2 separate regions of the Homo sapiens genome follow, and region 1 is linked to region 2. Evidence: fine-mapped expression QTL. Tissue or cell type: cerebellum. Region 2 holds a variant in brackets; the other region holds the start of a gene. All regions are shown on one strand. Distances are between the middles of the regions.

What was found. PIP is the estimated chance that this variant, and not a neighbour inherited with it, causes the effect.
Region 1: it holds the start of PLD5, and the variant in region 2 is fine-mapped to the expression of PLD5 in cerebellum (GTEx, PIP 0.98). The same link has a PIP of 0.9 or more in cerebellar hemisphere.

The regions. Positions count from the first base shown.
Region 1 is chr1:242,523,106-242,525,732 of GRCh38, reverse strand. PLD5 (phospholipase D family member 5) reads left to right here and starts at 1,036. Exons shown (of 10, transcript NM_001372062.1): 1 at 1,036-1,645. The coding sequence starts at 1,457.
Region 2 is chr1:242,210,978-242,213,733 of GRCh38, reverse strand. All of the region lies in intron 5 of PLD5 (phospholipase D family member 5), which reads left to right. Among named protein-coding and RNA genes, the nearest start is that of MAP1LC3C, 210 kb to the right of the region's middle. RefSeq lists an enhancer at 2,229-2,756. The variant C/T (reference allele first, on the strand shown) is at 1,257.

The DNA of each region.
Region 1 (2,627 bases), 310 kb before region 2:
GTTCTGCCGAGGGCTAGAGAGCCTTCAGTTTACCCTTGGCAACACCCTCTAAAATCCCCTGTATACCTCTCCAGCTTCCATACACTTCCCAAGCTTTTAACCAGACACGAGACACCCTGAACACCAGCTGTTTAGCATTTAGATAAAACCAAAAAATGTTTCGAGAGGTTGACTCCAAAGATAGCAAAAGATGAAGAGATTGAAGATTTAATCGCGAACAAGCCACCCTATTCCTAATAATCATCACGCTTGGCTGGGCCCCGAAGGAAAAGCCTGGACCCTAGGGGCCTAGAAACAGAGAAAAGAAACAAATGCACAGCAGTTGGGCCACGTCCACCTAAGGAACAGTCACCGCACAAGCGGAGCGTTGCAGAGGAGCCCTGGATCACCCTCCCAGGATCGGAATGGGTGCGGCCCGGGGAGCCCGGTTCTAGGTGGACACCGAGGGCTGGGGAGCAACCGGTCCCGCGTGCCTGCCCGAGGGGCTACTGCCCCCGGGCGTATTTGCATCGCCACACCATCGGATGAAAGTAGCGTGTACGGCTCCAGAAAACACATGTCTCTCGGCTATTTTCAGGGGGGAATGCTGGGCACCCTCTGCTCTAAGTCCCTTGGGGTGGGAAGTTAGTGAACTTTCAGAATGGGGGAAGGCGCAGCCCAAGCGAGCCGGGGGCAGGGTGAGGGGGCGCCGCTGGATAGAGATGGGGGAAGGGCGGAGGTGGTTTCCTGAGTGTCTCCCTCCGGAGCCATCCCCGCGCTCAGCCAGCAGGACCGAGGAGGCGCGGAGACGGCGCTCACTTCTCCCCTCGCCTGCCGGCTTTCCAGTAAAGATGCGCCAGGGAGAGGTGTAGCCTGCTCGGGAAAGGCGGGTGCGGAGCGGGAGCGCGGCCGCCCGGGCCTGGGCGCGGCGGGAGGGGCGGCGGCGGCTCCTCACTGCACCAACCTGCAGGCGCGGGCTGGCTGGGCCAGCCGCGGCCCCTCCCACCGCACCCCACCCCCGCCGCCGCCGCCGCCCCGGGAGCCGGCCCGGGTCCCAGTAGGTGCCGCAAGGAGCCGGCGAGCGGAGCGCCCGCTCGGGACCGCAGCCGCCGGGCGACGTCGCCGCCGCACCGGGCACTTCTGTCTCCCCGGAGCAGGTTCCTTTCCCTCCCTGTCCCCTCTCGTCCCCCTTCTCCCCGTCCGTCCCCCTCCGCCCCCGCCCCCGCCCCCGCCCGCACCTCGCCCTCCCTCCTTCCGCCCCGCGCCTCCCGCGATCGCCCCCTCCCGCCCGGCCGCGCTCCCAGCTGGCGCTCAGCACCCCGCGCTCCCCGCGCCCGCTCGCTCCTCCAGCTCCTCCAGCTCAGTCTCCAGCTCCACCTCCGGCTCCCGCTGGGCCTCCCGCTCGCCCTCCGCGCCCGGCTCCCCGCGCGCCCGTCCCGAGTCCGCTGCTCGCCGGCGGCCGCCCGGTCATGTCAGGATGGAGATCCGGCAGCACGAGTGGCTCTCGGCCTCCCCCCATGAGGGCTTCGAGCAGATGAGGCTCAAAAGCCGCCCCAAGGAGCCCTCCCCAAGCCTGACCCGAGTGGGCGCGAACTTCTACAGCAGCGTCAAGCAGCAGGACTACAGCGCCAGCGTCTGGCTTCGGAGGAAAGACAAGCTGGAGCACGTAAGGGCGACTCGCTCCCGGGGGCCTCGGCCAGGCACCTGCCGCATGCACCCTCCCCGTGGTGGTGGCATGAGCGCGCGCGGGGCGCGGGGGGCAGGCGAGGGGATCCTGGCAGGCGCCGACGTCCTAGGTCGGATTCGGGGGCTTCTCTGCCTGCAGTTTCTTGCCTTAATGACCGGGCTGCGGGGAGGGGAGGGCAGGTTCCCTTTCAGGCTCTTGGTCCCTGCCGACCCGACCTGCCCACCTGCGTCTCCCGGTAGGGTTCATTTGCACGGGGTTCTGGAGGTGCCTGTGCAGAGTGAGCACGAAGGGGAAGTGCCACCAGCGTGGCTCCGAGCAACCTGGCGTTGCATGGTAGTGGGCTTTAGAGCGGCGTTTGCCCGCGTCTTTGGGGGCTGTTTTACTCAGTCCAAAAACTAGCAAATTAACGAATGAGTAAAGTTGGCGCCGCTAGCGACCAGCGTGGACCCGCGCACAAGCCATTAGAGTTTTTTGCAGAGTGTCCGCTGGGATGAGCAGTTGGTGATCCTCTCTACTTGAGCCCAACTAGGGAGAGATTTGCGCGTTGCAAGGAGAAAGGCTAAAAGCGAGCGGATCGTCGGGCTCCCCAGAAATCCTCCCCTCTGGAGGGTGGGAGCCGGTGAGAGGGGACCTCTACTCCCAAGGAGTGCCGACTTCACGCGAAGTGAATTGGCTCTGGAGTTGAGCTCCTAAGGCTTGCTATTTTGAAAGAAAAAAAAAAAACCTTCTAAAAAGGCGTTTAGTGGATCCACAGTTTCAAATTTGATCCATCAGCATCTTCTTAAACCAAATGTTAAAATTAAACTAAGAGAATTATCTCAAGAGTGCAGCACAACTAGCTAAGGAGAAGATGCTATTTCTCCCTGCAGAGCTGCAGAATCCAAATTGAGTCTGCTAATGGAATGTGGAGGTTTCCTTGTATTTGGGTCAGGACGCCAACAATGATAAAAAAGATAAGACC
Region 2 (2,756 bases):
TGGCTTGTTCTATTTTCTCAATTTCCCTTTTTGCTGCGGGGGTTAACTCTCTGGGAGAATCCAGGACTGTATTGCCCTTTAAGATAGACAACAGGTTTTGCAGCTTATAAGTCGGAATGCCTAAAGTGGGGCAGAGCCAGTTGATATGCCTGGTAATTTCTGATAATATTTAAAGTGTGTAAGTTGCTAGTATTTAACCTTTTGAGGTCTTACTGACCGGGACGTTAGTATGTACCCAAGATATTTCCAAAGAGAGGACATTTGTGCTTTTTCAGGTGCAATAATTAAACCTTTTAGCTGTATTCTTTATGACAGAGGTATGTCGATTTAAAAGCATTAGTTCTGTTGGGGCTGCTAGTAAAATATCATCCATAAAATGAATAACCTTACAATCAGGAAATTCTTTTCTACTGGGGAGCAAAGCTTGATTTACATGATACTGACACATGGTAGGACTGTTTAGCATTCCTTGAGGAAGCACTTTCCAATGAAATCGACAAGCTGGCCTTTCATTATTGTAAACGCAAATTTTTTTCTGTCCTGTTCTGCTAGGGGAATCATATAAAAACAGTCTTTTAAGTCAATAACAATTATAGGCCAATTGTGAGGAATCACCACGGGGGAAGGGAGCCCCTGCTGAAGGGGTTTCATAGGTTGCAAATTGGCATTAATAGCATGTAAGTCATGCAAAAGTCTCCATTTACCAGACTTTTTGGGAATGACAAAAATGGGCGAATTCCAAGGACTATTTGATGGTTCTACATGTCCAGCTTTTAATTGCTCTTTATCTAATTCATGGGCTTTCTGTAATTTCTCTCCCTTCAAAGGCAACTGTTCTACCCAAATCAGATCTTGAAAGAGCCACGTCAGGGGTAGGAGAGAGATAACGGTGGCCATTATCAGAAAGAGGTTTTTTAAATTTTTAAATTTTACTCAAATCTTAGCATAGAATTACAATCTGGGATGTCGCTTGTACATAAGGAGCACACAAAATTTTGCCACAGGCCGGAGAGCTGGAGAGCTGAGCAGGCAGGCCCCAGGGCGGCAGCCACTTTGCACCTGCTTAGGCGCTGTGCTTTGTCTGTGCTGCTTCTTTCTGTACTGCTCCTTCCTCCACCCCGCTGCCTGGCGGCTGCTGCCTGCTGCACAAACCTTCCTGCATGTGCCTCCTGCCCATCCCCAGCAGGCTAGCTTCTGCATGCTGGGCCTGGCTCCTCATTGCGTTGCTACTATGCAGGTCGAGTTCCTGGGAGCAT[C/T]TGTTGGCTCCAGGTCTGCAAGCCTCCCTGCTGCTGAGCCTTTCCTTCTGCCCACCGCTCGCATGGTCGCGCAGCTCTGGTCTTTAATGTTTTTTCGTATTTTTAAATAAGCGTTAAAAGAAATGGGTTTATACATCTGATTGCCTTGTTGATCTTGCATTACTGGGCAGGCAAAGAGCTCCCCTTTTAATGCTGCTTGCTTAAGACAGGGTCTCTTCGCTGTAGCATATCCCCTGTCCTTTTTCCTATCTACTGGAGGAGGGGGCTTAGGCAAAACCTCCGTTTCCCCTTTTTTATTTTGGCCTGGTGATATCGGGGCTGAGGGAAGAGGAGGTGGTAAAGCAGGTGATGGTTCTTCCTCCTTCTCCTTTTTAGGCTCTTCTGTGTATAATGGAGCCAGGGCTGCCCTAACTAAGGCCCATAGCATTAAAGATGATACTGGGACCTTGCCCTTGCATGCAATGTTTAAGATTTCTCCCCACTTGTTCCAGAGCTTTACGTCTAGCATGCCTTCTTCAGGGAACCATGGGTTTTGGGATACAACAGTTTGCATTAGGTCCCTTAATTGAGCCTGCCAAACATAGGCTCCACTAGCTTTAAGCAGCTGTTTCAATACTTCTATATACTGTTTCTGTTAAGCTGATAACTGTTGTCCTGTGATGAAACCCTAGCCTGAATAATCCCCTGTGAACTTGGAAATCCTGAGCAGGCACCAATGACTTACTGACTGTGCAGTTCCTTTTTCACCTTCATTTTCGGGGGGTCCATCGTGATCCTTTTGTAGCGTTCCTCATGCAGGGCGCCACTTGTGGGGGTCTGTCCTACAGACCTCAGCTGCATGACGGATGAGACAGGTACTCAGACACTGATACTCAGTGAAAGAGCAGGCCAGGGGGCGGCCGGCACCAGCAGCCGAAGAGAGTTTTGCAGCTCCTCCAAGCTGGCAATGCTTGTATTTAGTTAGTACAGATTTAATTGACAAAGGCTTTGAGTCAACCACTGTGGGTAATTAACCTGGCTGCCCCCACCCTGGAGAGGGCCATCCTGCCCACAAATGATCAAAGGTTGGTCTTAGGACCACATGAGTAAACAAGCTATTTAGATAAAATACTTTACATTCCTTTGTATCTGCGTCCCAAGCTACTAACTCAAGGTAAGGATTAGGCTGCTTTTAGCCATAACCCTATCCTGAAACTTTTGCAAAACCTTCCGGCCTTCCAAGAAGGTTTGTGTGTATATCCTATAACTTCATCTTAAAATTTTTCCCACGAGCCTGACTGAACTCCCACAAAAGTCCTAGATGGCATCTTCTTCTAATAGAAGGTTGTTTTGTCTACATTGAAAATCTGTTGTTTAGTGTATCCAGCTTCATCGATGATCCCAGCTAGGTCTCCTGGATAACTACTGCAGCTTCTCTATCATCACTTTCTGCTTCACCTGGCACTTCTATGTTACAGAACGGTTTCGTACCTTAAACTTCATGAACCAACCTCAGCTAGC